Homo sapiens: one gene and its partner. The protein of the gene in region 2 purifies or fractionates together with the protein of the main gene of each other region. This does not show direct contact. Each region holds a gene or a part of one and is shown on either strand. Other genes may lie near its edges.

The links.
Region 1: the proteins of MEX3A (region 2) and RC3H1 purify together in Homo sapiens (affinity purification with mass spectrometry, with the first as the bait; one large-scale study listed by BioGRID). This does not show direct contact.

Annotation. Positions count from the first base shown.
Region 1 is NC_000001.11:173,980,632-173,984,649, reverse strand, and holds part of RC3H1 (roquin-1), read left to right. Parts: intron 1-30; coding exon 31-151; intron 152-992; coding exon 993-1,232; intron 1,233-1,747; coding exon 1,748-1,923; intron 1,924-3,640; coding exon 3,641-3,841; intron 3,842-4,018. UniProt on the Homo sapiens protein: Post-transcriptional repressor of mRNAs containing a conserved stem loop motif, called constitutive decay element (CDE), which is often located in the 3'-UTR, as in HMGXB3, ICOS, IER3, NFKBID, NFKBIZ, PPP1R10, TNF, TNFRSF4 and in many more mRNAs.
Region 2 is NC_000001.11:156,079,666-156,083,926, reverse strand, and holds the start of MEX3A (RNA-binding protein MEX3A), read left to right. Parts: upstream 1-1,461; 5' UTR 1,462-1,928; coding exon 1,929-2,382; intron 2,383-4,261. UniProt on the Homo sapiens protein: RNA binding protein, may be involved in post-transcriptional regulatory mechanisms.

The DNA of each region.
Region 1 (4,018 bases), about 18 Mb from region 2:
CTCATACAGATCTTTTCTTTTGGCCTCCAGGTCCCTGAGCAGCAGCCTATTACTTTGTGTAGTGGGGTTGAAGACACAAAGCATTATGAGGAAGCCAAGAAATGTGTAGAAGAATTAGCATTGTACTTAAAACCGCTCAGCAGTGCTAGAGGTAAGTTTGTTTTTGTTTCTTATTTAAAGAGTAAAACTGCTTTTTTAAATACTCAGTACATAATCCTATATAAGTCCTGAGGAATTCCCAAAAAACCTAACTAGAGGTAAATTTGATGCAATTATCCATACTAAGTAAATGTCTACTAAAGAGACTTGTTACCATAAAAATTGTGAGCTATTAAGCAAATGTTAATGAAATTTATCTATTGTAAACTAAACTCATTTTGTGCTAAATATCATGACACAAACCACATCAAATAAAATAGTGAATTTTTAGTTTATGTGATGATGGAAACATTATTCGAATGATGATAATAGCAAATATAACTACTTACTTCAGCAGTGCTTTCCATCATTTGACAATTCTGAATGGTTTGCCTTCTATCCAGTTTTATATGCTATGCTATAGGCGGTATAATGAATACGGAAGTTGCCATTACTGCACAGAAAGGGCTTGCTATTTAATTAGGAAAATAAGGTTAACCACTGTCAAATAATATACCAGAACTCTTAGGACTTCAAGATTTACATTATAAACTAATTATCAATGTTGTCTAGTCCTTTTTTCTTTCTTCCTCTATGATTAAAATGAGTAATGGTATATTTAATGTCATAATGAATGCTAAGTGCACATGAGATAACTCATGTATACATTTGTATACTTTAAAAATGTATACTTAAGTAAGCTTTACATGTGTGGTTTTATTTGTTGCTTATTTTAAATACTCTAGTAGTCCCAGAACTAGTCACATACCCACAAGTTAACCCAACAGAAGAATTGCTCCTGGACTGTAAAATTGCATTGTGAACCTAGGAATAACTTCTTTACTCTTTTAAAGGAGTGGGTCTGAACAGCACTACTCAGAGTGTTCTGAGTCGCCCAATGCAGAGGAAGCTTGTGACTCTAGTCCACTGTCAACTAGTAGAAGAAGAAGGCAGGATTCGTGCCATGAGGGCAGCTCGATCTTTAGGTGAACGAACAGTTACAGAGCTCATTCTCCAGCACCAGAATCCTCAGCAACTCTCTTCCAATCTTTGGGCAGCAGTAAGGGCTAGGGGATGCCAGTTCCTTGGACCAGGTACATAATTAACTTTAGGTATTTATTCTGCTGGTAATTCTAAAAGTATGATGTAGGAATTATAAGTGATGTACAAAGCCTAGTTCTTTGCAGTATTTTATTGTTACCAACTAATATCTTGTTTGATGTTCATGGCTTGGGCAATTCCATGTAACTTAGTGGACTTACTAGGTGAACTTAGTGAACTTAAAACTTTTCTCTTAATGCCAAAAGTTGTTTCTTTTTTTAATTTTTTGATTTTTCCTTTTTTTCACACCTGTAGCAGGAAGTTCATTCATTTTGATAGAAGTTTTTCTTAAATTTATTAATCACTTTATCTGTTTTCTTTATAAAATATATAGAATGTAATACAAAATTGCTCACAAAAATGGTGTAAAAGTGTGTTGCTGGTTAATCTTAACTGTATTGCCAGTTAATTGAATAGCTGCAGAAATGATTAAATATTCCCCTTCTAATAAATGGATTTATCTTATCTATGTACTTGATAAATTTTGGTTTTGCCCAACTTTCCCTAGCAATGCAGGAGGAAGCTTTAAAGTTGGTTCTGCTGGCCTTAGAAGATGGTTCTGCTTTGTCAAGAAAAGTATTGGTTCTGTTTGTGGTGCAAAGATTGGAGCCACGGTTTCCTCAAGCCTCTAAAACTAGCATTGGGCATGTTGTTCAGCTCCTTTATAGAGCCTCCTGTTTCAAGGTATGAACCTACATTAAAGCTCAGCTTGAAAGGAAATATTGTTCTTTCCCCAAAGTTAAGTAGTAAAACTTTGAGTTTAATAAAGTTGCCTGTATCTTTTCAGAAAATCTCAGCAATTTTTCTTTATTCTTTTAAAGAATGTAGATGGGGTCTTATTATAGTTAAATACTATTATATTGAATTTTTGTATGTTCAATATTGAACAACATAGATCAAGTCAAGGTTTATAGATTTTTGTATTTGAAGAGACTAAGAAACTATATCAATTTCTTACCAAGACTGTGCAGAATTGGTCTGAAGAGAGAGTTATTGAAGCACAAATAAATTTTATTTATTTATTTTTATTTTTTTGAGACAAAGTCTTGCTGTCGCCCAGGCTGGAGTGCAGTGCATGATCTCGGCTCACTGCAACCTCCACCTCCTGCGTTCAAGCGATTCTCCTGTCTCAGCCTCCCGAGTAGCTGGGATTATAGGCAGGGCCACTGCACCTGGCTACTTTTTGTATTTTTGGTAGAGACGGGGTTTCGCCATGTTGGCCAGGCTGGTCTCGAACTCCTGACCTCAGGTGATCTGCCCGCCTCAGCCTCCCAAAGTGCTGGGATTACAAGCGTGAGCCACCGCGCCCAGCCAAATAAATTTTATTCAGAGATTTTCTCCTAGTGTAATTCCACATATACAATAATGAAGTTCCATTTGCCATTTCAGTTTATATGGTAATGCTGGACATAGTCTCTTATCCCAAATTGAATAAGCACCGCCTCAAACATTGCTACTCACTATGTATCATTTATTGTACATCCAGTATTATTTTTCTGACTTTTTTTTTTGAGATGCAGTCTTGCTCTGTCGCCCAGGCTGGAGTGCAGTGGTGTAGTCTTGGCTCACTGCATCCTCTGCCTTCTGGGTCAAGCAATTCTCCTGCCTCCAGCCTTCTAATCATAATCATTATGATTATTCTAGTCTAGCATCTCACACTTTACACTTTCTGGTAGTAGCCCATCCCACAAAACTCCATGAAGAATTAAGCCAAGTACAAATTAAATCATTTTTAGAATTACACCAGCATCTGAAGCTCTACAGTCATCAGTCCCACCTAGCTCATTGTCAGGCAATCCCAAGAGTCATAATCCACATTTATGGAGAAGAAACATATTGTTTTTCAGAATATAGAATTGTATTAGTATTTTTTTCTTTTCAAAAATACATATACACACACATACACCTTAAACTGAATGTATATGTTAAAGTATGTCAAATCTTTGGATTTCATTCCAGCACATACAGATTGACTATACAAAAATCCAAAATCCAAAACTTTTTGAACACCAACATGATGCTCACATGCTCATTGGGGCATTTCAGATTTTCAGAGTAAGGATGCTCAAGTGGTTTAATGCAGATATTCTAAAATTTGAAAAAATCTGAAATCTGATAACACTTCTGGCCCAAGCATTTTGGGTAAGAGATTCTCAGCCTGTATTTATTCTTTCTGAAAGACCTATCCAGAAAATGTTGGCCTAAATCCAACTTGACTCAGAATGGGATGATAGCAATATACCTACCTCAACAAGTTAAGGAGAAAATATTTTGCAGGCAAATGGTATATTCATTTAATCTTGCTGTTGATGCTAAATTTGTTACATTAAAAATTATATGTTCATATAAAGCATAAACTCATTTTTTTGACTTCATTATGAGATTATTTGTGTCTTATTAGGTCACCAAACGTGATGAAGACTCTTCTTTGATGCAGCTGAAAGAAGAATTTAGAACCTATGAAGCTCTGCGGCGAGAACATGACTCCCAGATAGTGCAGATTGCTATGGAAGCAGGCTTACGAATTGCACCGGACCAGTGGTCCTCTTTGCTTTATGGAGACCAGTCTCACAAATCTCATATGCAGTCCATTATTGACAAGGTAGGACCTTTTTTGTTCCTTACTTCTTAGACTAATCTTGGCATTTTGGTAATTCATTTAACAAATGTATATTAAAGTGAATACTGTATAGCTTTTGTAAATTGTATTTATAGCCAGTGTCATGTCATAACCAATCACGTTATAATACCACTTTGTTCATTTAAAGATTTGATTAGT
Region 2 (4,261 bases):
TTGCATTACACTCCACCTTCCTGAAACTCTAAAAGTGCCTAACTCTCCAAGCCTTAAAAACTTATTTTCATTCTCACCGAATTTCCGGAGTCAAACGGGACTGAATGGGTTTTTTTGTTTGTTTGTTTTGTTTTTGTTTTTTTGTGGGGGGGACGGAGTCTCACTCTGCGATCTAGACTCACTGCAACTTCCGCCTCCCGGGTTCAAGCAATTCTCCTGTCTCAGCCTCCTGAGTAGCTGGGACTACAGGCGTCTGCCACCATGCTCGGCTAATTTTTGTATTTTTAGTAGAGACGAGGTTTCACCTTGTTGGTCAGGCTGGTCTCGAACTCCTGACCTCAGGTGATCCACCCGCCTCTGCCTCCCGAAGTGCTGGGATTACAGGCGTGAGCCACCGCGCCCGGCCCTGAATAGGTTTTCAATGGGAGAGAGGTGGAGGAAACAGAGTGGAAATTACGATGAGTGCTAAAGGACAGATCACCCCAAGCTGTATTCACAGCCCAGGCCTGAAGGAAGCCTGGGTTCCCAGTCCATCCTGGTCTCTCCTCCCTCCTGTCATATCCAAAGCTCAAGGCCCTCACCCCAAACGGTTAAGTCACCCCAGGCCTTTAAGACTTTTCCTGCCTGCCCACTCTCCGTCCGACCCCCAGTTCTGTCCCTGCACTCCTTCAACCTCTGCACTTCATCACTCCACCGCCCTCCCGACCCCCTCCACCGAGCAGAAGGACGTGAACTAACTCACCTCCCAGTCGGTGCCTCTGAGATCTCCGAGACTGGGGGGGCGGGGGGCGGGCGAGGGGAGATGGCTTGCTGTTTAGGGATGAGGGGACCCCATCCTTTGCCAGGGGGTTCCAGCCCCAGCCTGGCACCCTTTCCTGGCCCCCACAACACGCAGAGCCCAGCTCTCCCCCCATCGCTGCTGCGGGCTTTGTCTTCTCTGCCGAGAACCTCTCCCCGCGGCCGGGCTCCGGGATCGACTCTGGGAGAGCGGGAGGGGGAAGCGGAGAGTGAGCGCGGCAGGGAGCGGGGAGAGGGGAGCGAGAGAGAAAGCCGCAGTGAGCGAGCGGGGACGGCTCCCGGCTCCCCGCCCCCGGCCCCGGCCCCCCCTCCTCATTTCCATAAAAAAGCGGGCCCCCAGGACCGGCCGGCGCGGGGCAGGAGCGGGTCCTGGGAGGGGGCGCGCGGCGTTAGCCAGCTTCATACCCGCTCTGTTTCCGCATACTACCCCTTCTCCCCGCACCCTCCCCTTAAAAAATTAGGGACCTCGACTTCCATCCCACTCCTAGCTTGCCCCGGAGCTGCGAGGAAAGACCGAAGGCCACATCCCTATCCTCCTCGGGTCAAGGAATTTGTCCCCGCGCCCCCAAGGGCGGGAAACTACAACTCCCGGCATGCCCCGGGCGCCCCCGGCGCGCCCCCCTCCCGTCAGTTTCATGCTGCTCCATCCAGTTCATTTAAAACAAAAGAGTTTGAGCGCTGGAAGGGGCTGGGCTCTATTGGGGGCCACTGAGCGCCGCTCCCGGACTGGGGCTCGGTGCGGGAGCCTAACGGGGGCGCCTGGACAGCGGGGGCTAGAGACTCCCAGGTCCGAGGCGGGAGGGGTGGGGGCAGAGATCCTGCAGCCCCCCGCCCCCCGTCACCCCCGGAGAGGAGAGGAGATCTGCTTTCTTGGTTTTGCTTCTCTTTCCCCCCACCCCCACCCCGGGGGCTGGGGCGAGGGGAGTCGGGTTACAGGGTGTTTGGGGAGGGGGGCTTAGGGGGAGGGTCTATCTTTCTATCTCGCTTTCTTCCCCCCTCCCCAGTTCTTTGTTCCCCCCTCCCCACACACCCCCTCCTCTCCTCTCCCCTCCCCTCCTCTCTCCTCTTTTCCCTTCCACCACCTCTCTCTCTCTCTCTCCCTCTCTCTCTCCCCCAGCTTTTGTTTCGCCATGCCTAGTCTAGTGGTATCTGGAATAATGGAAAGAAATGGGGGCTTTGGAGAACTAGGATGTTTCGGGGGAAGCGCTAAGGACCGAGGGCTGCTGGAAGACGAGCGCGCCCTTCAGCTGGCTCTCGATCAACTCTGCCTCCTGGGTTTGGGGGAGCCCCCCGCCCCCACGGCGGGCGAGGACGGGGGAGGTGGGGGGGGCGGCGCCCCCGCGCAGCCGGCCGCCCCCCCGCAGCCGGCCCCGCCGCCGCCGCCCGCGGCGCCCCCGGCCGCCCCGACGGCGGCCCCCGCAGCGCAGACGCCCCAGCCCCCCACCGCCCCCAAAGGGGCGAGCGACGCCAAGCTCTGCGCTCTCTACAAAGAGGCCGAGCTGCGCCTGAAGGGCAGCAGCAACACCACGGAGTGTGTTCCCGTGCCCACCTCCGAGCACGTGGCCGAGATCGTGGGCAGGCAAGGTAAGCGGGGCGCCGGGACCACTGAGAGGGACTGTAGTGGGGGCACCCTCGTCCCTAGCGCGGAAAGTTCATTTCTTCCCTTCTTGCCCGCCTCCGGCTCTGTCCCTTCCCCACAAAGGGGGACCCGCCCCCTACCCTGATTTCAAAGTGCCACAAAGTTCCCCGTTACCCCTAGTCGGGACGGTTCTCCAGATCCTTCCTCCCCCAGGACTCTGCCTTTAGACAAAGAAATATCCTCGCACTGGAAGAGGGAAAGGGGAGGGGATCGGTCTCCCAATCCAGGGAGGCTGTCCTGAGGGGGTGTCCACTCCTAACCAGAAAAACTGACGGAATGTGCAAAGAGTTACTCAGAAGCCTGTACTCTGGTATCTGCTCCTAGGCTGGGGAGGGGGCATCCCTGGGGCCCCCAGCCGCCTGGAGTTACAGACTTTGGGGGAGACCTGGCCCTCGAAGCCAGACTGAGTATCTGTCTCTTTGTTGGGCTGAGTGTAGGAATGGAAGGGGGTGTGGCCCAGGGGAGGGTCCCAGCCTGGGGAAGAGGCGGTGAGGGGGGCTGCTGAGAGGAGGGGGTCCTGTGGTCACCCACACCCCAAAGTTGGATTGTCTCTGGGGTTTTGGAAGGGGTGTCTCCAAGGAAGTGCTACGTCCTGGCTTGGACCTCTCCTCTTCCCTCTCTGGCTTTTGTTCTGGGCTGGCCACGGCCTTGGGCCAGAGGCCTAGAGAGGGGTCTCTGGTAGTGAAAGAGTAGGACAGGGTAGGAGGGGGAATGCTGGGGGGTAAGAAACCTTCACCTGGAAATTTGGTGGAGGGCGTGTGTCTGGGTGTGTTGGGAGGGGGTGCAGAATTAATCCAGCGTAGTATGTCTGGTACCACACCCTCTGCTGCTCCAGCATCCCTGGGTGGGTGAGTGGGGGTGTTGGTGAAGGTCCAAATTGAGCAGACGGGATCTTGGGGACCCTTCCCTCTCCTGGCTTCTCAAAGGAGAGTGTGGGGGGCAGGATTTGGAAATTGCAAAGAGGCTGGGCTGGGGAGGTGTGGGGTGGGGGAGGAGCTGTCCCACAGTGGGGAACAATAGAGGAGCTGCATTCCGGCTGGGAGTGCGGGAGGAGGCCAGCTTCTGGCAGAGGAAAAGGGGAGGCGGGCCAGGGGGGCCCCTACTCCACATCCCACCTTATCCACTGGGAGTGCTGGGGGTTAGGGGGATTTCACGGAGAGATCCAGAATGGAGGAGGGGAAGATGCCACTCCCCTGCACAGCCCTCATCCCCCTGGGGCACTCCATCTCTTGAGATTTCTGATTTAGAAAGTTGGATTTCCTCTTGTCAGAAACTGGGGATCCAAAGCCCTGGAATTGGGTGGGGACGGACATTGCTATCTTTTCTTGGGTGTGGGGGTGGTCTTGGGAGGCCCCGGAATTTAATGGAGTCATTCTTTCCTCTTCTGCCTCCGCATCAGATGGGCTTGTCCCTCATAAAAGTAAGGGGATTTTTATTCACAAAAGATAAGCCTGCCCCTCAGTCAAGTATATGGAAGTCCTCCCTCTTGTCTAACCTCCCTCCTCCTGCTGCAGTGTTAGTGCTCCTCTGTTTGACCTCTAGGAAGGTGAAGCCCAGTGGGTCTTCCCTTCAAGAGATGCTTCTTTGGGGTTGCAGAACCCAGGAAGAGACCCACCACCAGCTTTGCACCTCCAGGCCTCTAGCGTTTCTTCTTACTCGATGCCTTGGCCTGTCCTCCTCACCCCAACCCCAACCGCTAAAGATACCTAGCTCTCATTTAAGTTTTTGGACCCAAAACTTACGGCCAGAACCCAGGTGCCCATCAAACGATATGTGAGTAGAAATGGTAGGAGAGGGGAGTTCACTGTTTTGTGACCCTCCATA